Homo sapiens: one gene and its partners. The protein of the gene in region 2 interacts with the protein of the main gene of each other region in a pairwise test. Each region holds a gene or a part of one and is shown on either strand. Other genes may lie near its edges.

What was found.
Region 1: the proteins of BIN3 (region 2) and TXLNA interact in binary tests that used the Homo sapiens proteins (3 or more experiments, as listed by UniProt).
Region 3: the proteins of BIN3 (region 2) and TRIM69 interact in binary tests that used the Homo sapiens proteins (3 or more experiments, as listed by UniProt).

The regions. Positions count from the first base shown.
Region 1 is NC_000001.11:32,189,537-32,193,174, reverse strand, and holds part of TXLNA (alpha-taxilin), read right to left. Parts: intron 3,121-3,638; coding exon 2,926-3,120; intron 865-2,925; coding exon 745-864; intron 519-744; coding exon 444-518; intron 1-443. UniProt on the Homo sapiens protein: May be involved in intracellular vesicle traffic and potentially in calcium-dependent exocytosis in neuroendocrine cells.
Region 2 is NC_000008.11:22,634,622-22,638,277, forward strand, and holds part of BIN3 (bridging integrator 3), read right to left. Parts: intron 2,342-3,656; coding exon 2,301-2,341; intron 1,966-2,300; coding exon 1,904-1,965; intron 1,892-1,903; exon of another isoform or gene 1-1,891. UniProt on the Homo sapiens protein: Involved in cytokinesis and septation where it has a role in the localization of F-actin.
Region 3 is NC_000015.10:44,756,937-44,760,592, reverse strand, and holds part of TRIM69 (E3 ubiquitin-protein ligase TRIM69), read right to left. Parts: intron 1,981-3,656; exon of another isoform or gene 1,973-1,980; coding exon 1,739-1,972; intron 954-1,738; coding exon 931-953; intron 846-930; coding exon 721-845; intron 1-720.

The DNA of each region.
Region 1 (3,638 bases), on a different chromosome or scaffold from region 2:
GGTTTCTCTGGGAGGCACTCTGGTCAACACACTCAGACCCGTCCTTGACTCTCTGACCAGTAATTCTATTGAGATACTATTTTTCCTTAAAACAAAGCAAAGCTATATATTTGGAAGGATATAATCCAAAATGCTAAGCCTGGAAAGTAGGAGACTTAGGGTGACTTTTATTTTGCCTTTATGTTGATTTTCAAACTCTTCTGTTCCTACCTCCTCAAAAGCAATACATTTCTGAGCTACAAATGAAGTCCTCTGAGCCCACCTAACTACCTGGTCACCACCACATAGGTACTGTGCAGGTCCGGAGAGAACAAAGGCTCAACCAAGGCGTCATAGCAGCCAGGACACAGCCAGTCCTAGAATGAGGGTCCCATTTCACTACCCCCAGGATGGGGCCCAGTGAGGGAAACTTGAAGGCACAGGGTCAGGTTATATGCTCTCACCTGTTGCTTCAGGTGGGTCTCTTGCTGCTTCATCAGCTCACACATCCTCTGGGACTCTACTGCCTCTTTCAGGAGCTATTTCCAAGACAGAACCCCAGATCCTGTCAGAAGCCCCCAGGGGCTATGTTTGGTTTTTAGCCACAAGCACCAGACCCACTGAGGCTTCCTGCTCTCAGACTGGTACTCAAGGAATCTGTGCCTGGTCTGGCCAGACTTCTCCCATATAACCCGGCTATGAGCTGAGCCAGAGCCCAGCCTGTCTCCTCCCACCCCCACCCCAACCCTGGGGCCTGAGCCTCACAAAATCCTTCTCCCGCTGGTGCCGCTCTTCTGCCTCCTTTAGCATCTCCTGGGCCTGCTGGAGCTTGGCATCCACCAGCTGCTGTTGTAGGTCCTTGTGTTTGAAGACTTTGTCGATATGCTGCAACAAAGATGGTGGGAGCAGTCGGCTTGTCAGGCGCTCCCTTTCTCAGGGTAGCCCCACAGCCACAGACCAGGGCACTTTGCCCAGCCCCCCATCTCAATCTGATATGATGGACTCCCATGTGTACCACACAACATGGGCCCCAAGTCTCTGGAAGGTCAGCTTTCCAACCTCACGTCGTTTCTCTCCCAGTGAGTCAGACCTTGGTAAGCACATGGTTTATGGATGGAATCTGCTCCCAAGAAGGCAAGCAATAAACACACTCAAATCTCTGACCCCAGGATTGATCACCTATGGGGCTGGAAGCCCTCACTTCTGTGTCCCTGATTCTCTTGTAAATGGGAAGAATGGGCAAAAACAATGCCTCTAAGAACATAACAGCCTAGCTCAGTTGGCAAAGACTTGCCATATCTAGGCAAAGACTAGACATGTGCATCCCCAAGGAATGGCTGTCCTGCCTACTAGAGGAGCGCTGCAGACCTGTGTCAGGTGAGAGAGAAGGGATGGAGAGAAGGTGAAGGACTCAGGTGCTACTTCAAAGGTAAAATCAACTGGACTTGCTGAAATAAGGGAAAATAACTCCATTTTTTTGGATGGGGAAGGGAAGGTGCCTAGCAGGTAAGTCCAGTTTGGGTATGATGAGGGTGCCTGTGTCTGTCTGGGGAGGGCTGTAAATGCAAAGCAGCAGGGCCTGGTAGTCCTGCACCTCCTTCTCCACAGGTAGTACTAAGTCCTTTTTTGCCTTGGCGGGGAGAGAAAACGGGGGTATTCAGATTCTTGAAGTTCGTGTCTCACTGTAGTGGCCCAGGAAGCCTCTATGTCTCAGCGCTGAGGGATAAGAACCAAACCAACTCCCCTCAAACCAAACAAGCAGCTTTGTTCCCAGAGGATGAAGTATGGCAAGGAAAGGGGTGGGTCAGGGGAGCGCCCTCTAGGTCCTGCACACACGATCATCACTTTGGCCTATGAACCTAAGAGGGCAGATCTTCCCGGTCTCACCCACTGCCACACCCCAGGGGCTAGGAAAGGGCCTAATCCAGAGCAGGTCCTCTGCCAGCCCTGTAAGGGGGCTGCAGGTCTCCCTTCTCATGATGAGAACGCGCCCAGAACAGCCAGGTGACTGGCAGGGAAGATCCAAAGATTCAAGTGCCTGGGGTGGCAGCCAACGCAGTGACAAAGGGAGTGACATCCTGCTTTTTTTTTTTTTTTTTTTTGAGATGGAGTCTCGGTATATCACCCAGGCTAGAGTGCAGTAGCACAATCTTGGCTCATTGCAACCTCTGCCTCCTGGGTTCAAGCAATTCTCCTGCCTCAGCCTCCTGAGTAGCTGGGACTACAGCCGTGCACCACCACACCTGGCTAATTTTTTGTATTTTTAGTAGAGACAGGGTTTCACCATGTTGGCCAGGCTGGTCTTGAACTCCTGACCTCAGGTGATCCGCCCGCTTTGGCCTCCCAAAGTGTTGGGATTACAGGCATGAGCCACCACGCCCAGCCTGATAAATTCTGCCTTTTGAGTGGCAGGAGCAGCAAGGAATCAGTGGACACAGTCTCTGGAGTCCATCACTGATCACAGGTACACCCCTCCCCTGCAATTCCAAATTCTACAAAGTTCTGAAAATGGAAATTGTCATAAGCTGGCAGCCAGACTTGACCTGCATCATTGTAAGCCCATAATGTAGGTGAGTATTTGGAAGTTCTACTGCATAAATACATTAATGTGTCTGGCTTCCCCAAGGCCCTGCTGAGGGTGCTATATAACACACAGTCCATACATGTACCTCCATTCTAAAATGTGGATAGTTCTAATTCCAAAAGATGCCTGGCCCAGTCATTTGGGACAAGGCACTGTGGACCTGGGGCTGTGTGGCTGTAAGTGAGTCTCTTCTCCACACCTGTTTTTTATCTATGAGGAATAACATTACTCTCCTCCCAAGGAGGAGGAGGAGGAAGAAAGGGAGAATGGGATGAAGCCTGAAAAGGTACTGTCCCAGTGCCTAGCACACACTCAAAACCTCACAATTTCTGGGCCATGACTGCTGTCCGTGATACCCTTACCTCCTCGCGCAGCTCATACTGCTCAATCAGCTTCTTGAGCCTCTCAGCCAGCTCCATGTTCTCTTGGCGCAGCTTGGAGTTGCGCTCATTGTGCTGTTCCATCTGCAGCTGAATGTCATTCAGTGTCACCTGGAAGTGCGAGGTCACCTCCTTGCGCTTCTCCTCCTCCTCCCGGGCCCGCTGCACACCTTCTTCCTGGGCAAAGAAGTCAGCCCGAGAGCCATCATCCACTGCTACCTCACAAGGGTCCCCCAGCTAGTCCACAGATGGTCTCTGCCAACAGCCCTCCCTGCTCCCAAAGCGTGGAGTAGCCAGACTCCAGGATGTTGTGCAATGCGGGTTCCAATGGGCCCCTCTGTATATCAGGTGACATCAAGTGAGATTCTCCCCCTAGAAAAATGCAGGCACATGGCAGGCGCGGTGGCTCACGCCTGTAATCCCAGCACTTTGGGAGGCTGAGGTGGGCGGATCACGAGGTCAGGAGTTTGAGACCAGCCTGGCCAATATGGTGAAACCCCGTTTCTACTAAAATACAAAAATTAGCCGGCGTGATGGTGTGCACCTGTGGTCCCAGCTGCTTGGGAGGCTGAGGCAGAGGAGTCATTTGAACCTGGGAGGCGGAGGTTGTGGTGAGCTATGATCGCGCCACTGCACTCCAGCCTGGGCGATGGGCCACAGAGCAAGACTCCGTCCCCAAAAAAAAAAAAAGGAAG
Region 2 (3,656 bases):
CCTCAAGTCCCACCCGTAGGTGCCCACTGCCCTGTGGCCCTTTGAATGGTGTCAGGAGACAGTGAGGCCGCCCCATTTGCACTAGGCTCACAGACAGCCAAGCAAAGAGTGGATGGGCAACGGTTCCGGAGTGGGGGCTGTTTCGGTCACCTTCTAGTTTGGTGGCGGGCACGGGGGTGGGCAAAGGAATGAGTGGGGCATGGGGAGGCTTCGCTGTGGAGACAAGGCCCTGGACTTGGAGAAGAGGAGCTGAACTCTTCCTCCTTTATCAAATGGACATGCCCATTTATAAAATGGGTGTGTCATGTGCCCTGCCAATCTCAAGGTCAGAAAAGCTCAGGGAGGTGAAATTTCTTCACAGCCATAACATGGCATTATTCAGCAGCTGGAGTGGCCGAGGGGACTGAAGATGGCTTCTCCACCCTCCTGCTGCCTCTCCTGCATCTCTGGTCAGCGTGCACCACCTTAGGGCCTCCGCGCTTGCTGTCCACTGTGTTTCAGGCCCTCTTCCCTTGGCTCTACCTGTGTGGGTTATTCATTCCTTCAGGACTCTGCCCAGGGATCACGTCCCCACGAAGGCCTCCCTTGACCCTGTCACTCTCCACCTCCTTATTTTTATTGACCTTGCACGCCACGACGTGTCATTATATACCGATCCGCTTGTGGACCTCTTGCAGGTCTTCCTCCTAGAACGTAAGCTCCCATCTTGTCTTGCTGTTGAGTCTCTAGTGCTGAGAGTGCCTGGTGCACGTGGGTTCTCGGTCAGCATCTGCTGAGTGAGAGGAAGTGGGCAGTCCTGGCCATACCCAAGTCTCTTTCAGGTCCTCGTCCCAGTGTGGTATATAGACACGGCTTCCCCACTGGACCCAGGGAAGGAGCTGCAGGAGTCCACCCAGTCAGGGAGGCTTGCTGCCGACCATGACGACGGTGATGACAGGAGCGGACACCCCGAGAGCTGACCCGTGCCAGGCCCTGTTCTCAGTGCTTTACGTTGCTCATCCAACTTCATCTTCAGCAACAGCCTGTGCCACTCGGATTGGCGTTACCTGTGCTTCTCGGGTGACGGAACTGAGGTAGAGCTAAGTCAGCTGTCCAGAGCTGCGCAGGGAGTGCTGAAGCTATTGATCAACCTTTGGTCAAGTGCTTGCTGCTCCGGGGTGGGAAAGTCAAGGCCTTGGAGAAAGAACCTCAAGGAATGGTCTCCATCTCTCCCGGCTGCTCGTCGCCTCCTTCCTGGGACATGGCCTGCAGCAAGGGCTCTGGATGCTCCCTTATTCCCGACCTGCTTGTGTCTCTAGGCTCCCAGGCCTGGTTCCTCCTTGTTTCAAACAAGAGCTCTCCAGCCAAGAAACCTCCCCAAGGGCCCTGGCTGTTTCCCAGCACCTGCTGGCCCCCACTTCCCAAGGACCTCCCGGTGCCCTTTGTCATCATAGAATTATCTGGGGTATTTCTGGCCTTACACTTTAACCCAACCTCCTGTTTAAACACATGACAGCTTCCATTCTTGTTGCCACTGGAGCGCCTGTCCCAGCAGGCCACGGAGTCTCGTTTCTGCGGGAAGGAATGTGCTTCCCTTTCCCTCTGGACAGCCTGAGCCGGTGGCCAGGATTCTGAGGCAATGGAGGCATCTGCTACCAGAAGCTTCCACCAGCTGCTGTACTGTCCTGACTGGAGTCCCAGGAGAGCCTTGCCCCAGCACCCACATCCAGAGTGGGGCAGTGCGAGCTCTGTGCAAAGTGGGATGTGACTGGTGAGGAGTGACTGCCCTGAGGCTGCTTCTCAGGACACTGGGTACACGTCCTCTGAGCGCAGCAACTTCAGAGCCCTTGGGGGGCTGAGAGAGGAGGGTGCCCACCTCTGCCCCACCTGCTCAAGCGAGTGGTGCGGGTGGAAAGTCACCTACCCAGGTCTGCGTCGGTGCTCTTCTTCATGTCTTTCTGCAGCCTCCGGGTCTGCTCTTCCAGCCTGCAAGGCAGGGGACGGGCTGCTTGGGGTCCCCTTCCTTCCCCCTACCTGAGCGAAGCCCAGGTGCTCTGGAGGGCCTGCCAAGGAGGAGGAGAAAGGGATCTTCTCCACGGGGACTTTTCCCGCTGACTGAAGTGCCACTACACCCAAAGGCTATGAGTGAATGACTCTCACATGGCCATTGCCAGGGAACAGTTCCAGCAGCCTGGTGACCTGAGCTGCCCTCAGCTTCCAGGGTGCTCACGGGGCAGGGCACGGGGCAGACAGGTGAGACCTGGCAGGGGGCCCTTGTCCCTCCCTGCCTCCCACCTCATCTTTCTGGGGTTGACACTCACTGCTGAAGTTTTCCATACTCCCTTTCAAAGTCTCTCTCCACCTGAAACGAGAGAGATAACTCAATTATCGGAGAAATGACAACACGGTGGAAAAAACCTCCCAGCCTCCTGAAACTCTCTCCACACCCTGCCCCAGTCCGCAGAAAACAACATGGTCCAGTTCACACAAGCACCGACAGATCGCTCCTGACACGGTATTTCTGAGATCCCAAGTTAATTAAGTGTTTGAATTACGGAGGAAGGCTCCCCTCCCAGAGGGTCCAGCCAGGCAGGTGCCAGCGGACTGTGGCTCTGCTCTTCCCAGCTGGGAGCAAGGCACTCGCTGCATGCCCTCCTCACCCCAGGCTGGAGGCAGTCAGGGTGCTCAGAACGTGACTGGACCCCATCCAGGAAGGCAGCAGAGTGCAGAGGAGAGGGCGGGTCTGGAATTGGGGGTCTGTCTCTGCCTTTTCCTAGTTTCCAGGTCCATGCAGGGCACCTCCCCTCCTACGCGGCCCTCCACTCAGGGCCACCTGCCCCTGCTGGGCTCAGGGTGGGTCAGGAACAATCGTGCACCTGTGCTTTGTGATTGGGATGCATCAAACACAGACACTGTGACTACTGACTCAGGTCAGGCTCTCTCCATTCCCGACCGGGTATCAACTCTCTTGAGAGCCAGCAACACTGAAACCAAATGGGTGAGTCCTGAACCCGGGGCTGCACTTGTTGCGGAAGATGAAGTTAAGAAGTCTAGTACTTTCTTCTGGTGCCTTGACTTCACTATCTGTAAAACGGAGCCTCATGATTGGTCTCTTATGGGCATGCAATGGGAAGTAAATGACATCGAGAGGCAAAGGAGACTAAGCTAGAGGCCTGCCCTCCCTGGCCAGAGCTGCAGCCGTCAGGTGCCAGCTTCGGGCTTCGTGCTCTGAGAAGTCAAAACCGCTAACTCACATTCACAGAGCCCTCACTGTGTGCTTTACAAGAATGCAGTTCTCTACACTCATCTCCAAGGCAGGTCACCGGGAACCAGGTTACGTACCCTGGCCAAGGTCACCCCATTGGTGAGGGGTAGAGTTGAGCACAGTGGGAATGGAACCCAGGCAGCCTGGCTCCACAGCCTGTGTTCGTAACCATCATTCTCCTGGAAGGCATTTGCTGACCCAAGAAAGAAGTCTTCCTGGCTGCTCCCTGGGAATCCTGTCCCCAAGAGCCCTAGATCCTGACTTCTGCTCTGAGGGTCAGGGAGTACACATCTGCAGAAACTGTCAAAGCCACGCTATTCCTACCACTGTCTTCCAGCAACGCTGACCTGATGAGAGAATTCTAAGCCCCTTAACCTTAGCACTCCACGTTTGGATTTAGATTAATTCAACA
Region 3 (3,656 bases), on a different chromosome or scaffold from region 2:
GGAAAAATTTGCGATTTTTCATTAAATCAGGGATATATTTGTGATTTCTCATTAAATCAATAACCATAAACAATAATAATAATGATGAGTCTATGAATTCTATAAAAACTCTATTTAGAATTTTATTTCTATAAAGATTTTTATTTAGAACTTTATTTGATGTTCTTGAAATGCCATGTGTGTTATTTTATCTTGCTCAGTCCTTTGGTATCTACAGGAACACAAAAACTTAGTGTCCTTCTTAGGTATGTTTATTTAAATTATTGGTTTTCTTCTGAAGCACTGAAGATCTAAACAATCTTCTAAAATGTTCTACGCTATGAACATCAAGCACAAAAGAAACTGTAAAGACCCAGTGTACATAAAAAGAGTATGTTCAGAAACCTCCTCCTTCTTCAGAGAAGCCCCTGGGATTCATATAGCTGATTTAGCAAAACAAGATAAAATTTTGGCTGTTGCCACATTTCATAAATCAGTCAAAATCATATGCTAAGAAGTAATCCTGATATCAAACTCATATCTATTTACCAGCACAAAGTCATAAATTCTTAGGTCATGGTACTAGAAGAAATTCAGTCATACCAACTAGCCTCCTTTTGGCCAAACTGTACCCCTTCCCTATCCCAGACTGTAAAAACTTAATTAGGGCCACAGAAGAAGTCCCACAGATTAAACGTAGATTAGGAGCCTCAAGAACCAATAGTTACTACCCACTGATACCTGGGCAGAGAGTGTCCTGCATTTCCCTCCATACCATGTACTGGATAGGACCTTTGTACTGGCCCAGGTTCAGCTTTCTGGAAATAAGCTCTCTGGTTGCCAGCACCTTCATTCCTTGCTCCAAGCTGCAGGGCACATAAATCATTTATCCTTAGACATCCTCCAGAGACTCAAGGAATGATATTAATAGTACCATAGGGAAACACTTACCTATGTAAGAGAGTTGTGATGTCCTAGAAGAAAGGAGAAAGAGAGACATCAGATGCCCGTTCATCAACTCTCAAAATTTCTTTGGTGATACCAGCCACCACCAGAATTTGTGCAGATGGTCCCGAACTCATCTCTACCAACTTCTTTCATCCTTCATACACTTTTTCTAATCTTCATCCCTGATCCTAACCCAGGTTAAATTGATCTTTTGCTCTTTCTAGAGTTCTCTTCTACAGGGAGCAAGACAGAAGCCAATAAGACAATACTTAAGGTTAAGCTATCTTTACCTATACTTTCAAATAGTCTCAGAAGAAAAACACATTAGGTATCCCAGTCCCAAGGCCACTTTTCCTTACTCTAGCTAATTAAACTTCTGAGTGCTGAGATGGTAACCAACGCTTCTTTAGAGGTGAAGCTTAAGAAAGCAAAGGTTAGAAAACAGCTTTTCAGACAGGTCAGCTTATGATTGCTGAGAGCCAAAGATACAACTCAGGCTGCAACATTTTTATTTTTGAGAAATAAAGCATCAAGCTCTTTATGGAAAAATATTAAACCATTACTATATACTATTATTAATGGAATTTAAAAATCGTATTTCCTAAGAGGATGAAAGTAAAGCTTTCTGCTGTGCGTATAGCTGAAGCAGCCTCCTCCTTTTCTTCCAGAGAATCTTAAAAGCACTATAACAGTTTTGTTTTGTTTTGTTTTGTTTTCCCTGGATGTGAAAAGCCACTTCCGCATTCTTTCCAAACCTCTTCCCCCCTCTAGGTAGGAAGGTACCCATAATCATATTGGTGTGGATTCTCACTTTGAGAAAGTCGAAGGAGTTCTGTTGTTCCGTCTTTGCCTGAATGCTCACCAACATATCCTTGGCTAAGAGACATTGCTCCTGAAGCTGGCTCAGATTCAACTCCATCTCCTCATTCAAGGCTTTCCCCTCTTCCCGGAGCTCAGTTAAAATGTCCTTTTCTTTGCTGTGCAGGAACTGATGCAGCTTTAGAAACTCCATGGACACATGTTGCTGCAGATGTAGCTTGTTTTCCTGGAAACCTCCATGATTATCACCATGGTTATTGCAGAGACTAGTGCTTGGGGATGGGGGCCCACACCACCAACACTCACACACTTGGTAAATACCATCACAGAAAAATGCATACAAATGGCTACTGAATATCAAATTCAGTCATACTAAAATGAGTCCTTTGGGAGACTTACTCCTTTTCCAACTAATTTAATAGTTCAGGATGAAATAGGCAAAAGTGACCTCCAGTTTCCTATTGCAGTACTGAGATGGTAACCAATGCCATATTAAATAAGACTGTGGAGTTAGTCAAACATTCTAGAATGAAAGATAATACCCTCCTAGATTGGTAATCCAAAAGCTGCCAAGTGGTACTGTTAGACTGGGGGTATTGGGAGGCTGGAAGAACTGTCCTTACCTAGAAATCAGAACTGGGGGAATGCCACTGTTACACTTGCAGCTTTTTCCTTGGGTTACCTCAACATCCTCACAGTTAAACTATTTGACATCCTGGCTTCTCAGTTCCTCATTCTCCTCATTTCTAGTGATTTCCACATTTATTGATTCATTCCTATAGTCTCACCTAGGATTTTATCACCCCCAGCAATTGTATCATCTCCAAAATAACTTTTTATGCACCAGGCTCACTCAGATACTCCTATTGCAACAATTATTGGATCTCATTGAAACCTCCTATTCACCGATCCCTCCATTTCTATTCAGGAACTTCTACCTTCATGTCCTCTCTTATCTAGCTTGGATCCCATGGTCCATAATTATTATTGCACCTTAAGATAGTCTTGGCTGGGCACAGTGGCTCATACCTGTAATTCCAACACTTATAGAGGCCAAGCTGGGAGGATTGCTTGGAACAGGAGTTCAAGACTGGGCAACATAGTGAGACCCAGTCTCTCCAAAAATAAAATAATTAGCCATGTGTGGCAAACTAGTCCCAGATACTCAGGAGGCTGAGGTGGGAAGATCTCTTGAGCCCAAGAGTATGAGGTTACAGTGAGCCCATATCCACCTCATCAATATCATCTTGCTTAGCATGTTCCAGCTTTATTGGCCTTTTCTCTGTTTAACATAGCAGCTAACTTTCCATCTCAGGACTTTTCCAGATACTCTTTTCTATTCCTAGAACATTCTTCTCCAGGCTACCTCCTTCATATCCCCACTCACCCAGTTCACTTGGATAAGTTACTTATCCTTCAATTCTCAATTTTTAATGTGACTTCTTCAGAGAACACCCCTCCCCCAGTCTAGATTATGTTCTCCATTTATATGCTATCATCATACCCTATACTTTCAGTTATAGTACTTATCACAGTTGTTATTTTATTATTACTCATGGGATTATTTAATTAACAGCTGTCTCCCATCCCCAATATCTAGTATTATGCCTGACCCACTCAATAAATATTTGTTAAATGAATGAATGAATGCTCACACTAATAGGAACTTTTACAAAAGGAACAAGATTTTCTGAAGACATCATTACTTCCATATATCCTTCTTCTTTCCCTGAGTCTGCATATTTTTTTCTTCCAGATGCCAAATACCTGAGAAGGCTCTTCTCCATAGAATAATGAATAAAGAAACAGAACTTCCAATTTAGCACCCCCAATCTAGGGACTGATTTGCCAAAGCTCTAGCCATTAATGTTGTCCTAGAGTGCCTATGAAGTTGAAAGTGCAGACAATAG